Linked DNA regions of Homo sapiens: region 1 is linked to region 2. The links come from fine-mapping of genetic effects on gene expression. A gene starts in region 2. The other region holds a variant in brackets. All regions are shown on one strand. Distances are between the middles of the regions.

What was found. PIP is the estimated chance that this variant, and not a neighbour inherited with it, causes the effect. A credible set is the group of variants that fine-mapping cannot tell apart.
Region 1: its variant is the best candidate, but not a certain one, in a credible set for the expression of CINP in lymphoblastoid cells (TwinsUK, PIP 0.53).

Annotation. Positions count from the first base shown.
Region 1 is chr14:102,334,914-102,343,243 of GRCh38, forward strand. ZNF839 (zinc finger protein 839) reads left to right here. Exons shown (of 8, transcript NM_018335.6): 5 at 776-925; 6 at 3,903-4,040; 7 at 4,181-4,310; 8 at 6,410-7,454. The coding sequence ends at 7,266. Among named protein-coding and RNA genes, the nearest start is that of ZNF839, 19 kb to the left of the region's middle. The variant G/A (reference allele first, on the strand shown) is at 5,041.
Region 2 is chr14:102,357,945-102,366,274 of GRCh38, forward strand. CINP (cyclin dependent kinase 2 interacting protein) reads right to left here and starts at 4,946. Exons shown (of 5, transcript NM_032630.3): 1 at 4,901-4,946; 2 at 1,475-1,643. The coding sequence starts at 4,907. TECPR2 (tectonin beta-propeller repeat containing 2) reads left to right here and starts at 4,997. Exons shown (of 20, transcript NM_014844.5): 1 at 4,997-5,172. LOC124903427 (small nucleolar RNA U13) reads right to left here and starts at 958; the gene lies at 855-958. RefSeq lists silencers at 4,991-5,400, 5,441-5,530.

The DNA.
Region 1 (8,330 bases), 23 kb before region 2:
TAATTTATTTAAAAAAATTTTTTTTGTAGAGATGGGATCTAGCTTTGTTGCCCAGGCTGGTCTCAAACTCCTGGCCTCAAGTAATCCTCCTGCCTCGGCCTCCCAAAGTGATGGGATTATAGGTGTGAGCTACCGTGCCCAGCTCATAGTTGTTTTGGAAAGAGCCAGGCCATTTGGAATCGTTTTCCTTTTGCAGGACAGCTGAAGTGAGCCTGCTGGTCACACACCGTGCCTGGTGTGGGGGCCGCTGCCTGGGTAGCTGGGTGTCTCGGGCAGGTGCCCGTTTACTCCCTTGACTTTTAACTTGGTACAGGAGGAATGGAAGTGGCAGCCACAAATAATGGCTATCCTGGGCTCTCCTAGAACCCACTCGCCCCAGCTGGCCTCTTCTGCCCGCGGCTCTGCTCCTTCTGAGCCCACTCTGAGGCTGCAGCCCAGGCTGCCTGTGCCCCACACTCCCTCTGGAGCTGACAGTCCAGCCGGGGCTCAGGGCCTTTCTGCCTTCCCTTCCCACCCTGTCCAGGAGCTCACCCATGCCCTACATGGCCCCCACCCAGGGCTTGTTTGTTTCTTGGCCTGCTCCTCCCATGCCCATCCTGGCTTCTCTGCACCATGCGGGGCACACAGTAGGTGCTCACTGGGGACTGAAGGAAACGCACACCACTGAGGGCTGCTGAGGGGTTAAGGAACCGAAACTTTGTTTAGATTTTCTTCTGTATTTTCCATATCAGTGCCTTGAGTTTAAACTTTTTTTTTGGTCTTTATCTTCACGAAGGTTGAAAAAGATCATCTAGCAAAGCCTTTTTTCCCAGCTATATATAAGGAATTTGAAGAGTTGCATAAAATGGTTAAGAAAATGTGCCAAGATTACCTCAGTAGTTCTGGTCTGTGTTCCCAGGAGACCCTGGAAATAAACAATGATAAGGTAACAATCTCCCATGGCAGAAAGAGTTTTGCTCATAGAGTTAGCCAGAAGAAAGAAGGGCCACGTGCAGTGGCTTATGCTTGTAGTCCCAGTGCTTTGGGAGACTGAGGCAGGTGGATCACTTGAGGTCAGGAGTTTGAGACCAGCCTGGCCAACATGACAAAACTCAGTCTCTACTAAAAATACAAAAATTAGCTGGGCGTGGTGGCACATGCCTCTAATTCCAGTTATTCAGGAAGCTGAGGCACAAGAATCATTTGAACCTAGGAGGCAGAGGTTGCAGTAAGCTGAGATTGCACCATTGCACTCCAGCCTGGGTGACAGAGACTCTGTCTCAAAAAACAAAACAAAACCAAAAAAAAAAAAAACTCCATGTATGAAGGAGAATGTTTTTAGTAATGACATTTTCCTGTTCGACCTCATTTTAGCTTTTTCCCATCAAGTGAAAATTTTTTTTTCTTTTTGTTTTTTTGGGAGATGGAGTCTTGCTCTGTCACCCAGGCTAGAGTGCAGTGGTGTGATCTCAGCTCACTGTAACTGCCGCCTCCCAGGTTCAAGCAATTCTCCTGCCTCTGCCTCCCAAGTAGCTGGGATTAGAGGCGCACACCACCATGCCCAGCTGATTTTTTGTATTTTAGTAGAGACAGGGTTTCACCGTGTTGCCCAGGCTGGTCTCGAACTCCTGAGCTCAGGCAGTCTGCCTGCCTCAGCCTCCCAAAGTGCTAGGATTACAGGTGTGAGCCACCACATCCGGTCCCCAGTTTTTTTTTTCTTAAAGCAATAAATGCTCTTCCAGAAAACTCAAAAATGAAGATAAGCTAGAAGAAAATGGAAAACACCATAATCTTCCCACTCACTGATGATCAGAGTTAAAACCTCAGGTATCATTTTCTTCTTTTTTTTTTTTTGTTTTGAAACAGGGTTTCCCTCTGTCTCCCAGACTGGAGTGCAGTGGCACAATCACAGCTCACCGCAGCCTCAACCTTCTGGTCCCAAACAATCCTCCCACATAAGCCTCCTGAGTAGCTGGGACTACCGCCGTGTGTCACCATGCCCAGCTAATTTTTAAATTTTTCGTAGAGAAGGGGTCTCGCTGTGTTGTCCACTCTGGTCTTGAACTCCAGGGCTCAACTGATCCTCCCTTATAGGCCTCCCAAAGTGCTGGGATTACAGGCATGAACCACCATGCCTAGCCCTGTTTTCTTCCTTATGTGGGTTTTTGGGGATGGATTATATAGGGGCCATTCATTTTTGTTTGTGGTGGTTCCGACACAATTCTCATTTCAGTGTCATTGTTATTATCAAATTGCCTTTAGCTACATTGGATTTTTTGGGGTGTTTTTGTTTTTTTGAGACAGAGTCTCGCTGTCAGCCAGGCTTGAGTGCAATGGTGCCATCTTGGCTCACTGCAACCTCCCCTCCTGGGTTCAAGCGATTCTCCCACCTCAGCCTCCTGAGTAGCTGGGACTACAGGTGTGCACCACCATGCCCAGCTAATTTTTGTATTTTTAGTAGAGACAGGGTTTCACCGTATTGGCCAGGCTGGTCTTGAACTCCTGACCTCAAGTGATCCGCCCGCCTCAGCCTTCCGAAGTGCTGGGATTACAGGCATAAGCCACCATGCCCTGCCTTATTTTCTTAAATTACATATGATGAAAATGTAAAAGGTTTTTGCTAAGCCTCATGTAGATGCCCTCCACAGCAGTCACCTGTGTGTTTTTTAAACTCTTGAGTTTAGCAAGTGTGGGTATCATCCTGCTTTGAGGCGGAACTCGGCACACACACACTGTGCCTGCCCTACAGAATCCGGCTTTTTCAGCAGCTCAGACTGTGCCATCGCCTCTTGGGAGCATGACAGTGGCTCCGTTTGTGAGGGGACACCATCCAGGTTGGTCCGCGCAGAACCCACATGGCCCGTTTTCTCCTTTAACCTTGTTCTGCCGCCCTTCCTGCCGTGCCCACCCCCATCTCATGCTCTGTGGGGTTCTCTTTATAACATCCATGTATAAATGATACCAGCTGTCTCTTAGCACTTTCACATCTGGTGTTTACGTAGGCATTGCATATGGAGTCAAATCTCATCTTCACAAAAGCCTTTCCAGGTAGCTGTAACCTCTTGTCTGGATAAGTCAGGGAGATGGACAAGGGAGACTCAGGAGATGGTGGCTCACCAAGATCACCCAGGCCATGGGCAGAGAAGCTGGGATCCAGCTCAGGCCCCCAAGCCCATGCCTTTTTACCAGCTGGGAAGGGAGATCTGGGTGTGGGATAGGCAGGATCGTTTTTCTCAAGAGACCAGTGAGAAGTCAGTAAAGGAGGGATAGTGGGAAAGAAAGTTACTATGGTATCAGCTAACATTATTAAGCTCGTGATAGCATTAAAGAGAGTGTTTTAAATGTTTTGTAAAGACTGTTCTGGGCTGAGCACAGTGGCTCACGCCTGTAATCCCAACACTTTGGGAGGCTGAGGCGGGTGGATCACTTGAGGCCAGAAGTTCAAGACCAGCCTGGCAAACATGGTGAAACTCCATCTTTACTAAAAATACAAAAATTAGCCAGGCATGGTGGTGCATGCCTGTAATCCCAGCTACTCAGGAGGCTGAAGCAGGAGAATCACTTGAATCTGGGAAGCGGAGGTTGTGGTAAGCCAAGATCATGCCACTGCACTCCAGCCTGAGCGACAGAGCCAGACTCTGTCTCAGAAAAAAAAAAAAAAAAAAAAAAAAAAGATTGGTCTCCTCCTCTAAATTGTGCTCACATAGAACCTTCTAGTTTTTATAATCCATTTTTATCATCAGCTAGTCCATCTAACATTATATTGATCTTCATCTTTCTCATTGTTGAGATGGCATCTCACAGTAGGTGAGGAACTTTGTAGATTTAATTCTATGAAGTCGTTTAATTCTTGCATGTGAATGTGCTTCTGGGGGTGTGTGCTGTTTGGGTGAAGTTTATTCTCTTGGCCCATTTCTTTTCAGGTTGCTGAGTCATTAGGAATCACAGAATTCCTACGGAAGAAAGAAATACACCCAGACAACCTTGGACCCAAGCACCTCAGCCGAGACATGGATGGGGAGCAGCTAGAGGGAGCTAGCAGCGAGAAGAGGGAACGTGAGGTGGGCATGGCTGAAGTGGGTGCCAGGTGACTGTGCACGGTGAATTAGCGTGGTTTGGCTTCTTCTGTTCACACCAGGAAGAGGAGGTAGCGGTTTGCCTATTCCTTCCTATTCTAGCTGATTGGGTCTTCTCTTCACAGGCTGCGGAGGAGGGACTGGCCTCAGTGAAAAGGCCCAGAAGAGAAGCCCTGTCCAACGATACCACTGAATCTCTTGCTGCCAACAGCAGAGGCCGGGAGAAGCCCAGGCCCTTGCATGCTTTGGCCGCTGGTGAGGGTAAAATGCTGTTTGTGGGGTGTATCCATGGCCTGGCAGCCCTGCTGACATGCACAGATGTACCCAGGATTGCCATTTTTCAGGTTGGGTGACCTGTGCTGGATTTAAGGGGACCCTCTGGTTTCTCAAGTTTCATTCCAGCCTCCCAGTGTTCTGTCATTCCAGATTCATTCCCTGCGAGTCTTGAGGTCTTCAGGGTTTTCTAGAGTGCCTTGTTAAAATGGAGAGCCACAGGCCAGGTGCAGTGGCTCACGCCTATAATCCCAGCACTTTGGGAGGCCGAGGTGGGCGGATCACCTGACGTCGGGAATTCGAGACCAGCCTGGCCAACATGGCAAAACCCCGTCTCTACTAAAAATACAAAAAAAACTAGCTGGGTGTGGTGGCGTGTGCCTGTAATCCCAGCTACTTCGGAGGCTGAGGCAGGAGAATTGCTTGAACCTGGGAGGCAGGAGGTTGCAGTGAGCCGAGATTGCACCACTGCACTCCAGCCTGGGTAACAGAGTGAGACTCCATCTCAAAAAAAAAAGGAGAGCCACCAAATGGTAGTAAACAGGCTATACCAGGAGGGTCCCAAGAGGTTAGGCTGAGACGGGTCCCAGGACACATCCATCTATGGCTTGGCTTTCATGAGACTTCGCTGTACATGCCAGCTGAGATTTAACATTTGAAAACAAGACAGGTCCTGGCTTTTATTCTGGCTCTAGCCAGAACCTATCAACTA[G/A]GCACTTAAAAAATTATATATATAAATTTTTTTTTTGAGACGGGAGTCGCACTTTGTCACCCAGGCTGGAGTGCAGTGGCACAATCTCGGCTCACTGCAACCTCTGCCTCCTGGGTTCAAGCAATTCTACTGACTCAGCCTCCCCAGTAGCTGGGATTACAGGCACCCGCCATCATGCCCGGCTAATTTTTTTTTGTATTTTTGTAGAGATGGGGTTTTACCATTTTGGTCAGGCTGGTCTGAAACTCCTGACTGCAGGTGATCTGCCCACCTCGGCCTCCCAAAGTGCTGGGATTACAGGCATGAGCCACTACGCCAGCCTTTTTTTTTTTTTTTGAGATGGAGTCTTGCTCTGTCACCCAGGCTGGAGTGCAATGGCATGATCTCTGCTCACTGCAACCTCTGCCTCCCAGGCTCAAGCAATTCTCCTGCCTCAGCCTCCTGAGTAGCTGGGATTACAGGCGCCCACCACCACATCTGGCTAATTTTTGTATTTTTAGTAGAGATAGGGTTTCCCCATGTTGGCCAGGCTGGTCTTGAACTCCTGACCTCAAATGATCTGCCCGCCTCAGCCTCCCATAGTGCTAGGATTACAGGCGTGAGCAGCCACCGTGCCCAGCCTGATGGTGATTCTTAATTGGGGCATGTGTTGGAACCACCTGGGGAGGTTATTGTGAAATACAGGGGCCTGGACCTCTGGGAATTCCAGGTCTGCAGGTAGGGTTGTTGGGAGGGTGTGGATGTGAGTATTTGGAAAGGCCTCTTTGGGTGATTCTCCAGCTCACTCTGATGAAGAATCACCAATCATTCATTCAGTATTGGCATAAAATCACTGTTGCTGGGTGTGGTGGCTCATGCCTGTAATCCCAGCACTTTGGGAGGCTGAGTCGGGTGGCTCACAAGGTGAGGAGTTTGAGACCAGCCTGACCTACATGGTGAAACCTTGTCTCTACTAAAAATACAAAAATTAGCTGGGCATGGTGGCGCATGCCTGTAATCCCAGCTATCAGGAGGCTAAGGCAGGAGAATTGCTTGAACCCAGGAGGTGGAGGCTGCAGTGAGCTGAAATCGTGCCACTGCACTCCAGCCTGGGTGACAGAGCGAGACTCCATCTCAAAAAAAAAAAAAAAAAAAAAGCACACTGTCGATTGGCTCTTAGAGCATATTTTTAATACAAAATCTGTCTTTGTGAATAGAGAATAGGGACGTATTTTTTAAAATTGCTACCAATCCCAAGGAGCAAGGAGCATCGATGCTTTGACTTTTCTGCAGGGCAGGTGACTTGGCCTAGCTGGTTTTGGGTGGTGAGTGCAGTGAGTGGGCCATGACACAGTACACGCCATGTTCACCTGTTTCCCAAAATGTTTAGGTTTTTCCCCTCCAGTAAATGTGACTGTCTCTCCCCGTTCTGAAGAAAGCCATACAACGACGGTTTCTGGTGGCAATGGGAGCGTGTTCCAGGCGGGCCCGCAGCTTCAGGCACTGGCTAACTTAGAAGCCAGGAGGGGGTCTATAGGTGCTGCTCTCTCATCCCGGGATGTCAGTGGGCTGCCTGTTTATGCTCAGTCAGGAGAGCCTAGGAGGCTGACCCAGGCACAGGTGGCAGCGTTTCCTGGAGAGAATGCTTTGGAACACTCTTCAGACCAGGACACCTGGGACAGCCTGAGGAGCCCGGGTTTCTGCAGCCCTTTGTCATCTGGTGGTGGAGCAGAGTCCCTGCCGCCTGGGGGGCCTGGACATGCAGAGGCAGGACACCTCGGCAAGGTTTGTGACTTCCACCTGAACCACCAGCAGCCCAGCCCCACCAGCGTCCTGCCTACAGAGGTGGCAGCCCCTCCGCTTGAGAAAATTTTGTCTGTGGATAGCGTGGCAGTGGACTGTGCCTACAGGACTGTGCCCAAGCCAGGGCCTCAGCCTGGCCCACATGGATCACTATTGACTGAAGGGTGTCTCAGAAGCCTTTCGGGGGACTTGAACCGGTTCCCCTGTGGGATGGAGGTGCACTCTGGCCAGAGAGAACTGGAGAGCGTGGTTGCTGTCGGCGAAGCCATGGCTTTTGAAATTTCCAATGGGAGCCATGAGTTACTGTCTCAGGGACAGAAGCAGATTTTTATTCAGACTTCCGATGGGCTTATCTTGTCCCCTCCAGGTACAATAGTGTCTCAGGAGGAGGACATTGTCACAGTGACTGATGCAGAGGGGCGTGCCTGCGGATGGGCCCGCTAGAAGGAGTTCCTCTAGAAGCTGTGGAGTCGGTCGTCACCGTGGAGCCAGAGCCCTCACAGTGAAGTGGAGTCAGATCCTAGATTCGTCTGATTTTATCCAGAGAAGGTCTATGGCAAGCAATGTATATTTTTCTAATGTGAATATTGCACAGATGAACCTTTTATTTATAAAGAATAATGTCTTTCTGCCCTGCTGTCTACATTTTTCTATGGAGCTTGTCATAATAATAGCAGATATTACCTGATCAGGAATCCCTGTGGCGCGTCTGACGCTCATGAGTTTTTCATGATGGTGATGAGTAGCACTGCACTGTCACCTGATGATTGGCCCTGCTCCGTTTCCCTTCTCTCCTGGGAGATATGCTGCTTTTCCACCAGACTTGCTCCATACTAGAAGCTTCTTTTGGGTTCAATTAAAAAGAAAATAAGCTAGTCATTCTGGGCAGCATTTTATTGATAGAAGGGGGAAAAAGTCATTTCTACTTGCATGATTTTTTAAATTAAATTAAATTAAATTAATTTAATTATTTTTGAGACCAAGTCTTACTCTGTAGCCCAAGCTGGAGTGCAGTGGCGCGATCTTGGCTCACTGCAACCTCTGCCGCCTGGGCTCAAGCGATTCTCGTGCCTCAGCCTCCTGAGTAGCTGTGACTACAGGAGCATGCCACCATGCCCAGCTAATTTTTTTTTTTTGTATTTTAGTAGATACGGGGTTTCACCATGTTGCCCAGGGTGGTCTCAAACTCTTGAGCTCAGGCAATCCGCCCACCTCAGCTTCCCAAAGTGCTGGGATTACAGTACAGGCATGAGCCACTGCACCTGGCCAATGATTTTTTTTTTTTTTTTTGAGATGGAGTTTTGGTCTTGTTGCCCAAGCTGGAGTGCAATGGCTCGATCTTGGCTCACCGCAACCTCCACCACAGGGTTCAAGCAATTCTCCTGCCTCAGCCTCCCAAGTAGCTGGGATTACAGGCATGTGCCATCACACCTGGATCATTTTGTATTTTTAGTAGAGACGGGGTATCTCCATGGTGGTCAGGCTGATCTTGAACTCCTGACCTCAGG
Region 2 (8,330 bases):
ACAGGCTCACCCTCTTATTAGGGGATATTGCAGTTAGTGACTTTAAGTTGAATCCAATGCTCATTTACCATTCTCAAATTCCTAGGGCCCTTAAGAATGATGTTAAATCTACTCTGCCAGTGGAAAAAGCAAGAGAACCAGAACTGGAAGTGGGGTCTGAAGATGGAACTGAATTGCTGCAATCTCATGAGAAAACTTGAACAGATAAGGAATTGTTTCTTATGGATGAGCAAAGAAGGTGGTTTCTTGAGATGGAATCTATTCCTGGGAAAGACACTGTGCACACTGTTGAAATGACAACAAAAGATTGAGAATATTATATAACTTAGTTGATAAACCAGTGTGAGAGGTCTAATGTGGGTAAACACTATTAAACAGCAATGAGAAAGAACAGAACCAGAATAGTGGCTCTACATTACACGCATGGCTTCCATGTTGAAAGACAGTGAGACATGGCTGGGCGCAGTGGCTCATGCCTGTAATACCGGCATTTAGGGAGGCCAAGGTGGGCAGATCACTTGAGGTCAGGAGTTTGAGACTAGCCTGGCCAACATGGTGAAACTCTGTCTCTACTAAACATACAAAAATTAGCCGGGCATGGTGGCAGGTATCTGTAATTCTAGCTACTCAGGAGGCTGAGACAGGAGAACCACTTGAACCTGACAGGCAGAAGTTAGAGTGAGCCAAGATCACGCCATTGCACTCCAGCCTGGGGGATAGAGTGAGACTCGTCTCCAAAAATAAAAAATAAAAAATAGAAAAAGAAAGTGAGATATAAAGGAAACAATAACATATGTTTTTTGTTTACGTAAAATCCAAAAATGGATGAAAAGAATTCATGGTAGTTTTTTCCATATCAGCTAGGTAATGTGCCAACATCATAGCAAAGTTTGAGGAAGGCACAGGTCATACATGAGCATGAAAACCCAATCATTATGCCTATGAACTACAAAAGAATCAAAGAATCTGTGGTTTTAAAAATCAGAATAGCCAGGCACGGTGGCTCACACAGCACTTTGGGAGGCTGAGGCAGGTGGATCACGTAAGGTCAGGAGTTCGAGACCAGCCTAACATGGTGAAAGCCCGTCTCTACTAAAAATACAAAAATTATCTGGGTGTGGTGACGGGCGCCTGTAATCCCAGCTACTCCGGAGGCTGAGGTAGGAGAATTGCTTGAACCCAGGCGGTAGAGGTTGCAGTGAGCTGAGATCGCGCCATCACACTCCAGCCTAGGCAACAGAGTGAGACTTCATCTCCAAAAAAATAAATAAATAAATAACTAAATATATATATATATATATATATATATGGAATATAATTTTGTATTTAAAATGTACAATACAATTTATACTTACACGTATCATCTTACCACTTGCTTTTTTTGCTTAATATTTTATTTTAAAATTTATTCACATTATTTCCCCAGTTATTAAGGGTGAAAAACTTAGAGCATGAAAAACCAATATGTACTTACAATAAACTGATTTTCAAGTTGGCAATATTATTTGCAGTGGTAAAACCTGCATCATTGAGGGTTTCCCACTTCAGGATTAAATTGTGCCAATCAGCCGCATTGTCCTTAATTTTTCTTGCACTGACAGATAAGACAGGTTTTCTGGGCGTTACAGTTCCAAGAGTCTTTGCTGATAGGGTATAAAAGAAACAAAATTATTATCATGGAATATACAATCATAGTTGGAGGGCAAATGTCCTTATAATTTTCAACAGTAAAACTATCTGAAATGCTGTATCAACTGGACAAATAAATGTGGAAACTACAAAGTCTGAATGAATGTGAAAGTTCCTGGAAGAAGACAATATAGAATATTTTTAACATTTTAAAATTCACCAGATAGAGCTGAATCCTCTTCCAGCTTAATGGCTCCACAAAGTTTTTACCTTAAGCCCTTTGTTTTCCAAAGATTGGAAATAAGGTAAAGTTGTGACTGTCTGCTAAAACTCTTCAATGGCTCACGTTCCCTTCCCTACAGGATAATCTAGCCCTGACTCCCGAGTACTTCCACTATCTAGTCTCAGGCACTCTGATACTTTAAATTTGCTCAGAGTAGCGTGGCCCATGAGTGCTAATCATTTCAAGACACTGAGACAACAGAGATGCAGAGTTGATCACGATGCTGCCACTGCCCTTCTTGGTAATCAGGAGGAAGTCCAAAATCCTTCCAGACCTAGCTACCCCTCCACATCATCACGTACATCAACCCACACCTTGGCCCCCCGTCAATATCCAGCGAAAATGAACTACTGGCAGCTCTTGAAAAGCTGAGGTGCCTGCAGGCCTTTACACGTGTTCTCTCTGCAGGAAAGCTCCTTCCTTCCTCAGGCTCACGATGCCCATCCTCCAAGATGCACCCGGATCCCACTGCCTGTAGGAAGCAACCCCCAGACCACCAAGAGCCAACTCAGGTTGTTTGTTCTCCCCGAACCCTCCTGTGCCCTCTTGCCTTCTCTACTTTGAACCCCACAAAGGCTTCTCACTGCCCACAGGATAAAGTCCTCTTGAGGAATCCAGGACACACAACAGCTGGATGGTTTGATGCCTCAAGTCAGAAGACCACACTGCCTGCGTCTGAACCCCAGCTCGCCAGCTGTGAGATCTTGGGCAACTTAATGTACCTTTCAGAGCCTCAACATTTTCATCTGTAAAATGGGAATAAAAATAGTATCTATTTCATAGGATTGCTGAGATTAGATAATATATGTGAAGCTGTGAGGCCTCGCACAAGGCAAAAACCCAGTATCTCACCTGTTAGCTCAAGGGCCTCTACTATCCAAGCTCTGCCCACCACTTCAGCTTCTACCCTTTCCCACTTGCCCTCTGTGCATCAGAGCTGGCTCTGTACAAGTTCTGACTTTGACCTGGAATATTTTTCCTATCTGTGTGTGTCCCCACTCCCCTGCCTCATACTTAGTATCCTCACTTTAAAATATCATCTTGATTTATCATTCATTCTTTACTTAAACAACAAATATTTGCTTACTGCCTACAATACGCCAGGCATGGGGGAATGAAGTGATTGAATGAGACGGACCAGGACCGTTTTCATGGAACTTACTTTCCAAAGGGGAGGCAGATAATAAACAAATGACCACGATCAGTTCAGATCATGATTAAGTGTGTGTGGAAAATAAAACAGGGTCTTGTGTTAGTGTGATCCCCTGAGAAGGTGTCGTTTAGGCTGAGATTTGAATGATGAAAAGCCAGAAATAGGGTAGGTCAGTAGTATGTGCCCTAATTATGATAATGAGGTTGGTGAGTTCAAAAAACAGAAAACAAAACAAAACAAACAAGCAAACAAAAAAACCAGTGTGCTGGAATGAAATAGACAGAAAAGGACTAGTGCGTGAGTAGGTGATCAGACAACTAGAACCTAATAGGCCAAGATAAGAAGTTGGACCGAGGGCAGTGGCTCACGCCTGTAATCCCAGCACTTCAGGAGGCCAAGGCGGGCGGATCACGAGGTCAGGAGATCGAGACCATCCTGGCTAACACAGTGAAACCTCATCTCTACTAAAAAAATACAAAAAATCAGCCGGGCGTGGTGGCGGGCGCCTGTAGTCCCAGCTACTCAGGAGGCTGAGGCAGGAGAATGGCGTGAACCCGGGAGGCGGAACTTGCAGTGAGCCCAGATCGCGCCACTGCACTCCAGCCTGGGTGACAGAGCGAGACTCCGTCTCAAAAACAAAACAAAACAAAACAAAACAAAACAAAATAAAAAAATGAAGTTTGGACTTCTAAGTATTAGCTTGGTGCAAAAGTAACAGATTTTGCCATTACTTTTAACAGCCAAAATTGCCATTACTTTTGCACCAACCTAATACAATGGGGAGTGAGCAATGAGCTCTGGATAGGGCAGTGAAATTATCTGATTTAGGTTTTTAGAAAGTCATTTCCACAGAGAAGTATTCCTGGATCCCCCAGGTTGGGTTACGACTCACCACTAGATATGTGGTACACCCTATAATTCTGCTATCATGATATTCACCAGTGGAGTGTATTTGCTTGTTTAATGTCTATATTCCCTGCTAAACTGGAAATTCGACTAGGGTAGGAACTATGTCTCGTTCTCTTTCAAACCTTCCACACATAGGAGGCTTTGCATAAAATGAGGTAAATGGAGGAATAGCTCTTACCACCTGTTCTATAATTGTCTAAGGGTTTTCCCCCCAACAGGAGATTCTGAGGGCAGGATCACATCTGATTCATGGTCAGCCTGACTCATACGGGGCACATATTTAGGAACCAAAAACATAACTGACTTCAAGAAACTCAAGGGCTGGTAAAGACAGACCAGTCATCAGCGTCACAGGACAGGGTAGGGTGAGGGCACAGTGGCTAAGTTACTTATCCCCTCTGAGCCTCGATTCCCCATCTGCAAAATGGGGTTGACATTACTTCATGGGACCACTGTGAGGTTCAAATGAGATGATCCACTTAAAGTGCTTGGAGCAGTACTCAGCAAACTGAGCACTAGGCGAAAGCCAGCTTTCATTACAAGCAGAATGTTCTGACTGAGGGCAGTTCAGAGAGGAGTTTCTGGACGAGATGAGCATGCAAGGCTTGGTACCCAGTGAACTCTGTTAGTACTAATTTATAGTGACAATAATTACAATTTGGATGTCGGATCTGCTGACACTCATTTGCGTATATCGTCCCGTTCATCTGTCACTGCACATGTGAAAAAACGGAGGCTCGGCAAAACTGTCTCCCGAGCAGCTCGCAGAGGCTGCGAGGGGCCTGCGGGCTAGGCTGGGGTAAGACAGAGGACCTCCATTTAACCTCATGTAATCCGGGGAGCTCCTGAGCTTCTGGTCCAACCTGCGGCCTAAGCAGTAACATTCACAGCCACCCCACCCCGGGAAAGGAACCGATCTCACGCACCTTCCATAAGGTCCACAGATATCCGTAGAAGGAGACGCGAAGCCCCGCCCACCCCACCGGAAACGCATTTGCGTCACGTCCGCCCCGCCCGCTGCCACTTGTGGCTCTGCCGCTCTAGCCCCCGGCGGAGCCAGCTGCTGCTCTTCGGTGCTGGCCCCGGTGCCGGCCCCGTTGCCCAGGGAACAGGCTCCCGGCAGCCCCCGCGGCCCGGAGTCCATCCCGCCTCCTCCGGCCCGGCGGGGCCGACGAGTCCGGAGGGGCTGCCGCGGGAGGTGAGTCCGGCGACGCCGCAAGCGGCCCCGACGCCCCCGACGCCCCCGACGCCTGGCCCCGAGCCCCTCCTCGGCCTCCCCCGGGCCACTCTTCCCTTGCCTCAGCCCCGCAGGGTCTCCATGCCCGTCCGCCCCGTCTCCCTCGCCCGCGGTCTCGCCCGCGCGGAGTGGCGGACACTAAATGCCACAACACACGGAGCGCCTGGCTCGCCGCCCGCAGAATCCGGCGGTCCGCAGCGGGGAACAGGGGCCGCCCGCCCCTCCTCAGGCCTCCGCTGCGCGTCCCGCGCCCTCGGCCCCCGGCCCCACCCTGCATCCCGGCTGCCGGTCTGGCCGCGGGCTCTGCTCCTTCGCCTTAAGATTGACGTCGTGTTCTGTCCCCCACTCGCAGCCCGCGTCCCTTACATCCGCCCACCGGCGCCTGGCCCCAGGCCTTGACACTCATCCAGTTGGTGTTCAGTGTTCGATGAGTGGATAAGTGAATGACTCCTTTCCCAATCCTATTTGAAGGCATGGGAGGCAGAATAGGTAGTAAGTGTTAAAGGATGGGGTGTCCTGGAGTCAGAGCCGGGCAGGTCCCAGCGGCCCCTTCCTAGCTCTGTGCTGGGGCAAGTGCCCTACCTCACTCCGCTCCAGTTTCATCACCAGTGGAATGGAGATGAGAATAGTTTCTACCTCTGGCTTGGTAAGAGGATTAAATGGGTCAGTGCATGTAAAGTTAAGCACGGTGCCTGCCGCTGTACATTTCAGTAAAGGGGAGCCCCTGCTGTCATCTGTGCTAGCCTGCGTTCTCGCCCTCTAGTCCCTTCTGATATGTCTCTGACTTCTCATGACTTTAGTTTCTCCTTCTCTACCTCCATTTCTCTTCCCTGCACTTTTTTCTTCCTCTCTTATTGGGATTCAGGAATTTTATTCTGTTCTGTGACTTATGTTCCATGTGTTGGCAGAATGTGGGATACCAGCCTGGGTGCATCCTTTTCTCATCTATTGGAGTGACCAGTTGCACTTGTGGACTGCCTCCTTGCAGCCAAGGTCTTGTAGACAGAGTTCTGGGAAATCTCAAAACGCAAATCCCAGGCATAGGTAGAATCTGGGAATGAAGCCACTGTAGCTCCTTGTGATCACCAGCGATTCCTGGTCTTTTAGGCTGCAGGACTTTGTGTTTTCTCACACCCAGCTATAATGTACCTTGATAAACCTCTGACCTTATTTTTGTTGTTGTTGTTGTTAACCTGACTTACGTCCCATATTGGTGGTTATTTGGCCATCGTGTGCCAGCACTGTGCCAGGCTGGCTCTAGGGATGCTGTGGTGAACCAGACAGACCCTTCCTGAGGTCACTGCCTCAGAAAGATCATGGTCTGGCCCATGAACTTTAAAAGGGAGAACTAAGTGCAGGTGTAGGGGACACACAAATTGAATTTTCAGGACTGCCTTGGAAAACCAGTGGTGGGGAAGATGGAATGAGGATAACCCTCTTCTGAAGGAGTGACTAGGAAGTAGCTTTTGTTAGGCATCAGCTATATTATACCCACGTGTCTTTTTCAATAGAAGACTGGCATCTACTGGATTTTTTTTTCCAATTTTTTCTTAAAGAAGTTACACTTAAGTTTGGGGAGAATTTCATTTCATATTAGCCGCTGTAGGAGTTGAAAAAAATGGCTACTGGAACTTAGTGGGAAGAAAAGGAAGGAAACAGGCATCAGGCAGAGGCAGTTGATTGAACTTGGGAAGATGAGGAATAGATCAGGAAAGGGTTATAATGAAAAGCTTTGGTGTCAAGCACGAAGAGATTTCTAGATTCAGTAATGCACAGAGAGATCAGTAAAATTAGAAGGGAGTAGTTGATGGCTTTGCGAATTGCTAAGGTAGAAGGGAGCTGTTACTCAAGATGCATGTTCAATTTAAAATGAATGTATTCTTTGGACCTGGACATAAGAGTTCTATTGACTTTTTGCCACTATTTTATATTTAGGGCTGTCATACTTGGGTGAATCTAGCACAGTGCTTTGAGAGAGAGATTCATTCAACAAACGTGTATTGAGCATTGATTGTACCATACTCTTTATTGGTCTTTTAAAGCACCACAAAGTATACAGACTAGAAGAACATAGGTGAAGATGAGAAAGAGTCCATTGAAGGGGAGAGAAAACAGATAATGATGGTGCTGTGCGATAACTGCCATCATGGAGTTCTGTGAAAGCAGAGAAAGACCAACCAAGTATCTGAGGGAATTTATGAAGGCTTCCTGGTGGCGGAGGACTAGTTCTTACAGGGCACATGTGGGGGAATAGGGAAGAGTGGAAAGGGACTTTGTTCTGCAGAGACATACAGGTTATGGTGTGTGCAGGGACTGTGATGGAAAGCTGATGGATGCACAAACAAAACGTGGCCTGTCTACACAATGGAAGGCTGTTCAGCAATAAAAAGGAACGAAGTACTGATTTGTGCTACAACATGGAGGAACCTTGAGAACATTAGGCTAAGTGAAAGCAACCAGACACAAAATACCACATATTATATGATTCAATTTTGATGAAATCTCCAGAATAGGCGAACTGTAGACAGAGAGGAGATCAGTGGTTGCCCAGGGCTGAGAGAAGAAGCGTGTAGAGGGGTGATTGCTAAAGGGTAGGGAGTGCACAGTGTGTGGATGGAAGAGTGGCCTGAGATGAAGTTAGATATAGACTGTTTTGTCATAGTGTCTAATTTCCATGCTTGTGTTAGGCTTTAGCTTGTGACCATTGGGTAGCCAATGGGGATGGGAGCAAGGAAGTGACAAAATTTTGTCTGGAAGATAAATGACTGCCTCAGTCTCATTACGTTCCTCCTTAATAATTTAATACTCAAATAATTAATAGATGTCGTAGCCAGATTTCAAACATAGATTCTACAATAGGGATACAAATTGTTGCTTCCTAGGGATTTTGGAGAGAATCCTGAAACCATTAGTGTACCCAGAGCACTCTGATAACATGGTTATTGTACAGCGAAGTGGATGACTTAGACTCTATATTAGTCCTAGCTCCAGTTTGAGAAATCATCCATCTGGGTGGCAGTTGGGTGTTAGTAGTCAGCAGTGAAGGCTAGCTGCCACCTTCCAGGGTTATGAGATTGACAGGGCTAGTGGGGAAAGGAAGCATCGTAACTTGAAGGATG